Regions from separate parts of the Homo sapiens genome. Here all the other regions are linked to region 1. Evidence: fine-mapped expression QTL. A gene starts in region 1. Each other region holds a variant in brackets. All regions are shown on one strand. Distances are between the middles of the regions.

Region 1 (2,761 bases):
AAGTGCTGCCCCACCCCTGCCCACCACCGGCCCCCAGCCCAAAATCAGGGAGTGGGAACCAGGAGGCCCCACTCCCGCCAGCAGCAGGCGCCCCCTCTGAGCCCGAGCCTGTCTGGTTCCCAGGCCCATAAAAACCACCGCCCTCACCTTGCCCTGGGGCGGCAAAGGGTGAAGGAGGAAGCTGTGGGGTTCAGAGATTGAACTGTCATGGATTCAGAGGCCTGGGCCAATGAAAGTCAGTGTTCACAGAGTGCCTTCTGCGTGTCCAGGTGCAGTTGAGACACCCCACACTCACAGCCCTCACTGCAGTTCTGCAAGATCAGGACCACCACGATCACCCTTCACAGGTGAGGAAACTGACGCACGGTAGGGTGCAGCCACGTGCTCCAGGCTGTGCAGCCTGAGAAAGGTGAAGTCAGCATTGGAACCCAGCTCCGCCCGACACCGCAGCCAGCATTGCTCTCATCCATGGCAGTGCACGGAGACCATGTCGGTGCCAGCTATGTGCCAGGTGCTGGTTCAGAGCACAGGTCCTGGAGCCAGACTGCTCAGTGCGTTAGGCAGGTGACTCAGCCCCTCTGTGCCTCAGTTTCTCCAGCTGTGAAACAGTCCACATGGCACCTCCCTTGTCGGCTGCTGAGGAGACGAAAGGAAATTATTTCCAGTCAAACAGAGTGCTCTTGTTGCATGCCCTTGGGAGAATTCATTCCCGCTCTGAGCCTCAGTTTCCCCATCTATCATATGGGGATTAAACTACGCCACTGTGTTGCATCGCTGCGAGACTAACGTGACGTATTTGCACAGTGCCTCCCGCACAGTGGACGTTTACTCAGAGCTCACTGTTCATTCACTCCAGTCCTGCAGGCCTCACTGTCCCCATCTGTAATCCCAGAAGGCAGCCCTGATCACCCAAGACGGCTGCTAAGTCCCTAGTGCAAAGGTCGAGGGGTCCCAGGGCAGCCCTGACAACTGGGGATATCCTGGGGGTGGGGAGGACAGCTGAGTGGCCGGGATCAGGAAGCTGCAGGGGGCCCAGGTGACTCACCCGCTGGCGGGGCTTGGGGGCTGGGCTGCGGCCCCCACGCACCCCTCTGGGCCCTGCCTTGTGCCCAAAAGTGCTGTGTCATGCTCCGTCATGTGGCTCCGGGTCATTAATACCCGAGTTCTGGGAAGCTTGGGCCGAGTTCCCGGAAGGGGTCAGCCAGTTCAGTAAACAGATTGGCTGGTTCGTCGTCACAGCTGAGCCGGGCGGGCCTGCAGCTCAAGAGGCAGGAGATGGAGGCTGGTGGCCAAGGGGACACAGGAACTGCCCCCGGCCCCATTCGGGGCTGGCACCTCCCAGGGCAGCCTGGCCCAGGCTCTGCAGATGAAAGGAGAAACCAAGGCCCAGAGAGGGCAAGGCAGTTGCCAGAGATCACACAGCAGGTCCGGGGCGCGGACCTAGAATTCTGGTCTTATCATCCAGTGCTCTCAGCATCACTCTGACTGATGGGCAGGGGGGGACAAATCACCTCAAATTGTAACCTAAGCCCCCCAAGCCCCCAAATCCTAACCTGGACCCTAAGGCCAGTGTGTTGGATGAAGGGAGAAATAAATGGAAGGCAACTTGGGAAGGAAGCAACTTTGAGGGGTTACTGGGCTGTCCCCTGTGGTCGATCCTATAATCATAGTAACTGCTTCTAGTGTTTCTTGAGCATCTATTATGTACAGGGCATTACCATAAGTGCCTTCCATAAATCCACCCATTTAATATTCAGCCACCTTTATACGAATAAACACAGGCATCACGTTTAAAGCATCCACTGAGTGCCAGGCACTGAGCTGGGTGATTGACATACACCACCCGGGATCCTCTGCGGACCTTGCCAGGGAGGCATCGCCGTCACCCCTGTTCATCAGATGAGGAAACAGATGCCCAGGAGGGCGAGCAGCTGAGGTGTATGGTGGGAGAACAGCAGGCTCCAGAGTCGACTAGACCCAGGGATTCAAATCTTTACTTTTACCCTTCCTGCTGTATGGCCTCAGGCAAGTGACTCCACCTCTCAGAGCCTCAGTTTACCCATCTGGTAAATGGGGATGATTATGGTACTGGAAACACTGGAGCCAGACTTGGTGGGAGCTCGTGAGTGTCATGATAGGGCAGTGGCTGGAGTGCAGACTTTTGGGTTGAATCTTGCTGTGCCCCTTCTTGGCTGTGTAACCTCGGGCATGCCGCTTAGCCTCTCTGGGACTCAGTGTCCTCTGTAAAATGGACATAGCACCTCCCTCATGCGGCAGGTGGGAAGAATGAATGAGCAGAAATCCCCGCAGCCTTCTGTGCGAGGCCAGGTATTCTGCAGCCACTGAACGCAGGTGACTTGTTCTTATATTTCACCTATGATGGCTCCACTGGGACTGGGGTGAGGGGAAGGACACTAGACCATGGGCAGAAGGACAAGGCACCCACATTCTTTGCTGCCCTTTTGCACCCACAAACAATCTGGAAAGGGAAGCTCAGCCTTGCCTGCCTCCTTGAGGGTCGGGGCTGAGGCTTGGCGTGAATGGTTGCCATGGCATCCTCCCCACCTCCCCACCAGCCACTCTGCCTTGCTATGGACTCCACGTTCCTCCCCTACTTAAAACCCTCTAGGGCTCCCCATTCCTCTTCTCGTGTACTACTCCCCAGTTTGGCTGAGCCCCAGACAGGCCTTATCATGGCTCTTTGGTTCTTGGCACCCCAGCCCCAGCCCCCTTGGTACAAACTCTCACACTCATCATTCCC
Region 2 (2,761 bases), 59 kb before region 1:
ATATAATTCACCTACCATAAAATTCGCGCTGTAAAAATGTACAATTCAATGGTTTTAAGTACATTCACAGAGTTGTGCAACCATCACCACAATCAATTTTAGAACATTTTCACCACCTCCCCAAAACGCCCCGTATCCCATGCCTACTCCCCATATGCCCTCATCCCAGCCTCCCCAAACCACCAATCTACTTGCTGTTTCTACAGATCTGCCACTTCTGGGCATTTCCTAGGAATGGAATCGTGCCCTATGTGGCCTTTTGTGTCTGGCTTCTTTCACTCAGCACCACGTTTTCGAGGTTCATTCACACTGTAGCATGAGTTTGTCGTTCATTATTTTTATTGCCAACTAATATCCCATTGTATGGACCCACCACATGGGGTTCACCCATTCATCCAGTGATGGCCATTGGAGCTGTTTTCACTGTGCAGCTGTAATGAATTGTGCTGCTGTGAACATTTGTGTGTAAGTTTTTGCGCAGACATATACTTCTGTATCTCTTGGGTATATACCTAGAAGTGGAATGTCTGGGTCATGTGGTAACTCAATCTACACTTTTGGGGAACTGCTGGACTGTTTTCCAAATCGGCTGTACCTCTTTACAATCCCGCCAGCAAGATATGAGAGTTCTAGCTGCTCACACCCCCACCAACATTTGCTAGTGTCTGTGTTTTTGATCATTTGCCATCCCAGAAGGTGCAAGGTGGCAGGCCAATGCTTTGCCGTCATTAGTGGCAAACGTTTAAAAACTGGGACAGTTTCTTATTTTTTTATTTTTATTTTTTTGAGACTCAGTCTCTCTCTGTTGTCCAGGCAGGAGTGCAGTGGCATGATCTCAGCTCACTGCAACCTCTGCCTCCTGGATTCAAGGGATTCCCCTGCCTCAGCCTCCCGAATAGCTGGGATCACAGGCCACCACACCTGGCTAATTTTTTTTTTTTTTTTTGTATTTTTAGTAGAGACAGGGTTTCACCGTGTTGGCTAGGCTGGTCTTGAACTCCTGACCGCAGGTGATCTGCCCGCCTTAGCCTCCGAAAGTGCTGGCAGGTGTGAGCCACTGCGCCTGGCCTAAAAATTGGGAGAGTTTCTATCAAAATCTGGATCTCTGGCTTCTCTTGAGGAAGATGGCTTTTTGGCATGACTGGGATGCGTTCCCCGTGGAGGCTGAGTCGCAGCTACCCTCCAGGCCGCCACAGTCCTCACCCAGCCAACCCTTGTTGAAGGGACTTCAGGGCTCCTTTGACACTGAGGTCTGTAATATGTGTTTGAGCCCAGATGAGGTCCACAAAGATGAAGAACTTTCATCACTTGGCCTTTCTGGAATCGACTTTCCCTCAGGCCGACTGGGGGTTGAACCACGAATACATTTTC[C/A]TACATAGTATATCCCACATTGACACAGGGTACCGTCTAAGGGATCCCTTATCCAAAATGCTTAGGACCAGAAGTCTTTTGGATTTTTATATTTTCCAAATTTTGGAATATTTGCATATACACAATGAGATATCTTAGGGATGGGACCCAAATCTGAACATGACCTTTACTTATGTTTCATACAAACCTTATACACACAGCCTGAATGCAATTGTACATAATTTTTAATAATTTTGTGCATGAAACAAATTTTGTGTGCATCGCACCAACAGAAAGAAAGGCGTCCCACACCTATCTCAGTTACCCACGTGGACAATCTGTGGTTGTTTGGCATCACCCTTATTCCTGACTCTGAATTTATATGCTATCAATAAGCAATCATTGTCTCACACTTACTCACACATAAGTACTCCATGGTAAAAAGTATGACATAGCATTAATACAGTGGGAAAATAAGGAGTTCAGGGCGACCAAGCAGAACAGCGATATCAGCAGATAGGGGGCTCAGCCGTGAAACAACAGCGACAACAGAAAACCGCGGGCTTTCACTTACGGCATCAGGTCCGCACTCAGAAAGTTTCAGATTTGGGAGCATTTCGGATTTCAGATTTGCGAATTAGAGATGCTCAACCTGTCTTTTCACAGTGATCCTGGAAGGGATTCATTGTCCCTGTCTCCAGATGAGAAAATTGAGGCTTCCTGAGGAGACAGCACGTGGCCCGTCCTGGGTCACATGCTGGTGAGGGTCTGGGCTGGGATTCCAGGCAGCTGGTCTGACCTCCCCGCCCTGTGGTTTTGGTTTTTGGTTTTTTGCAGAGACAGAGTCTTGCTGTGTTGCTCAGGCTGGTCTTGAACTCCTGACCTCAAGCGACACCCCCATGTTTGCCTCCCAAAGTGCTGGGATTACAGTGTGACCCACTGCACCTGGCAGTCCTGTGCCTTCTGTGACATCACATGGTCTGTGAGGTCCCTGGGTCTTTCTCACATCCTCACACTGCGGTGGGCAGCCCGAGATGCAGGTCTCTTTCTTAAAGAATTGTGTTTGAGCAAAAAAGCCCACAGAAGTCACCATCTTTCCACCTCAGGATCTCATACAGTTCTGATAATTATAGGTACAGGGAAGTCTCAATTTCAAATGTTCAAGTCCTAAATGGATTGATTGTGTTCACTGGACTACAAGTTCCAGGGGGGAGGGGACCTTACCTGTTTGTTCACTCCCATGTCCCTCGTAAGAAGAACCTTCCAGGCACAAGGTATCTACTATGGAAACATGTGTCTGATGAATGGATGGAGCTGGTGATACATTTATTTATTTTTATTTTTATTTTTTTGAGACGGAGTTTCACTCTTCTTGCCCAGGCTGGAGTGCAATGGTGTGATCTCAGCTCAC
Region 3 (2,761 bases), 720 kb after region 1:
TTCACTAGTTGCCCAGGCTGGAGTGCAATGTCATGATCTCAGCTCACTGCAACCTCTGCCTCCCACATTCAAGCGATCTCCTGCCTCAGCCTCGAGAGTATCATGTTGACCAGGCTGGCCTTGAACTCCTGACCTCAGGTGATCCACCTGCCTCGGCCTCCCAAAGTGCTGGGATTACAGGCGTGAGCCACCACACCCAGCCTCCATTCAATTCTTTTTTGAATTTATGCCAATATGATTTGGATATAATTTTCATCCATTTTGTGTTAACACTTTCATCTATTGGTAGATTTTTCTGCTCTTCATAATTTATCATAATATCTTTGTATCAAGGCTTTTACACTTTTTCAAAAGCTTGTCATTGGAAGGGCTTGGTTTTCCTGGGTCAGGTATTTTGCTGATTGCTCCTATGGGTGTAAGGAAGAATTAGGGTAGCTTCATGGGCTCTGTAACTGTGGCTCTCCTCTGCTGCCATAGAGACAGACTGCTTCCTGCAAATATGTCTTCTCTCTGTAATTCTTCACTATACCTCCTCTGTTTCTCTGAACCAAACGAGATCCAGGAGAGCTTCTGCTGCTAATCGTATTCACCCAAGCTTCTACATTCATTTTTATAAAGAAGGAACATAACTTTCATCTCATGGCAAGCCCTCATCCCTAGGAAGTGTAGTTTTGCTGATGCTTTCTGAGATTTGCTATCACTGAGCCCACTCACCACTCCCATGTGGCTTCTGCCCTGTCTTAGCTGCTTCACACGTACTCTGAAGCCGATGAATTATATGTCTCTCCTGGCTTTGCTAAAAATGGAGTTTGTGGTTTGGTTTTGTATATTTGTTTTTCCATTATTCTTGATGCTCTGGTATAATTTCTAGAAGGAGAGGGTAAATGTGGCCTTAGGCAGCCATTTTTCTACCCCCACTATCTAACTGGATCCTCTTTAGTAACTCCTTGACATAATAAGCAAAGCAGCTATGACTGCTGTCCCATTTTCAAGATGAGAAGCCAGAAGTTCTGAGGTTCTTGGGGTGCTTCAGGGTGGCAGGAGCATCATCACTCAGGGTCTGTCTGGGTGACAGATCAACATGGGTCTCTTTTCTCCTTGCCTTCCATGCTAGGCTGGCTCTCAGGCAGGACAGCAGGGAGTTGAGGAGACTGAGGTCTGACTTCATCATTTTTTCCACTACAAAGTGCCAAGGCAGCTGGTTGGGAGCCGTGAGGCCACCTGTCCCCCGTCCTGGGAAAACCAAAGGATGAGAAGCTTGCTGGAGTCCCTCTCCTGTAGCACCCACCACCTCTGGCAGATAGCCTGGGAAGAGGGGCAAGACCACTCCAGAACATCCTCTCACAGGCTAAGACAAGGTCTAGGTGGAATTAGCCTGGGAACGCTGAACGAAAGGCCGCCTGGCCCAGCCATGTTTGCATCTGGGTAGCTGCCCCACCTCTGGGCTCTTAGCCAAGCACATTCCCTACATAATCCTGGCTCTCCTGGGGAAGGATGCTGG[A/C]GGATGGCTCCCCTGCAGCTGACATCCTTGCACTTTAGAGACCTTCAAATCTCCAAAGGCCCAGGCCTGTGCAAATTCTTAGAGACAGTCAGCAGCAAGGCCCAGATGGCAGAAAACAGGTCATTTCTTCCAACCCTCTGCCTCTGATTCAGACCTGCTTTCTCTTCATGTATAAAAAAGACCAAGTGAAGAGGTTTTCTGTCTTTCATTTCTTCAGTAAAATTCTTGATAAAGAGGCCTGCACAGTGTTGGCAAATAAATACTTGGTAATATGTGCTGAAAGAATTATGCTTCATCTCTTTTGTTGTTGTTGCTGTTGCTGCTGCTGCTGTGTTGTTGTTGTTGCTAAGACAGGGTCTCACTCCGTCGCCCAGGCTGGAGTGCAGTGGCACAATCTCGGCTCACTGCAACCTCTACCTCCCGGGTTCAAGCAATCCTCCCACCTCAGCCTCCTGAGTAGCTGGAATTACAGGCGCACGCCAGCATTCCTGGCTAATTTTTGTATTTTTAGTAGAGACGGGGTTTCACCACGTTGGCCAGGCTGGTCTTGAACTCCTGACCTCAAGTGATCCACCCATCTCAGCCTCCCAAAGTGCTGGGATTACAGGCGTGAGCCACTGAGCCCAGCCTTGCTTCATCTCTCTTTCTTTTCTTTTTTTTTTTTTTTTGAGACAGAGTTTCACTCTTTTGCCCAGGCTGAAGTGCAGTGGCGCGATCAACCCCCGCCCTTCTGGTTTCACATGATTTTCCGGCCTCAGCCTCCTGAGTAGCTGGGATTACAGGTGTCCCCTACTACACCCAGCTAATTTTTGTATTTTTTAGTAGAGACGGGGTTTCACCATGTTAACCAGGCTGGTCTCGAACTCCTGACCTCATGATCCTCCTGCCTCAGCCTCCCAAAGTGTTGGGATTACAGGCGTGAGCCACTGCAGCCGGCCTAGCATCATCTCTTTTATTAAGTGCCTACTGCATGCACTAGACACAAGATCTTCTTGAATTCGTCCAACCACCATGGGAGGGGGGCCTTGTCGTCATCATCCTCTTGTACAGATGTACCAAGGCTCCAAGAGTAGAAAGCAGCCTATTCTAATTTAACTGGTACAAAGAACATTCAACCAAAAGGATTCTAAAAAGTTCAGAGATAAAGTATACATTAGTCAATTCTTGTTGCTTAAGAAGATCTCAAAATCTCCATGACTTGTAACAACACGTACATTTTTCTTCTTCGGACCTCTGCAGGTCAGCTAGGGGTTCTCTACT

The links. PIP is the estimated chance that this variant, and not a neighbour inherited with it, causes the effect.
Region 2: its variant is the best candidate, but not a certain one, in a credible set for the expression of LINC01270 in whole blood (INTERVAL, PIP 0.59).
Region 3: its variant is the best candidate, but not a certain one, in a credible set for the expression of LINC01270 in caudate (GTEx, PIP 0.50).

Annotation. Positions count from the first base shown.
Region 1 is chr20:50,291,115-50,293,875 of GRCh38, reverse strand. LINC01270 (long intergenic non-protein coding RNA 1270) reads right to left here and starts at 1,156. Exons shown (of 5, transcript NR_034124.1): 1 at 1,046-1,156. RefSeq lists an enhancer at 867-1,603.
Region 2 is chr20:50,350,174-50,352,934 of GRCh38, reverse strand. LOC105372657 (a long non-coding RNA gene) reads right to left here and starts at 2,237. Exons shown (of 3, transcript XR_936837.3): 1 at 1,925-2,237. RefSeq lists an enhancer at 2,431-2,480. The variant C/A (reference allele first, on the strand shown) is at 1,372.
Region 3 is chr20:49,574,409-49,577,169 of GRCh38, reverse strand. No RefSeq gene overlaps it. Among named protein-coding and RNA genes, the nearest start is that of PTGIS, 7.7 kb to the right of the region's middle. The variant A/C (reference allele first, on the strand shown) is at 1,502.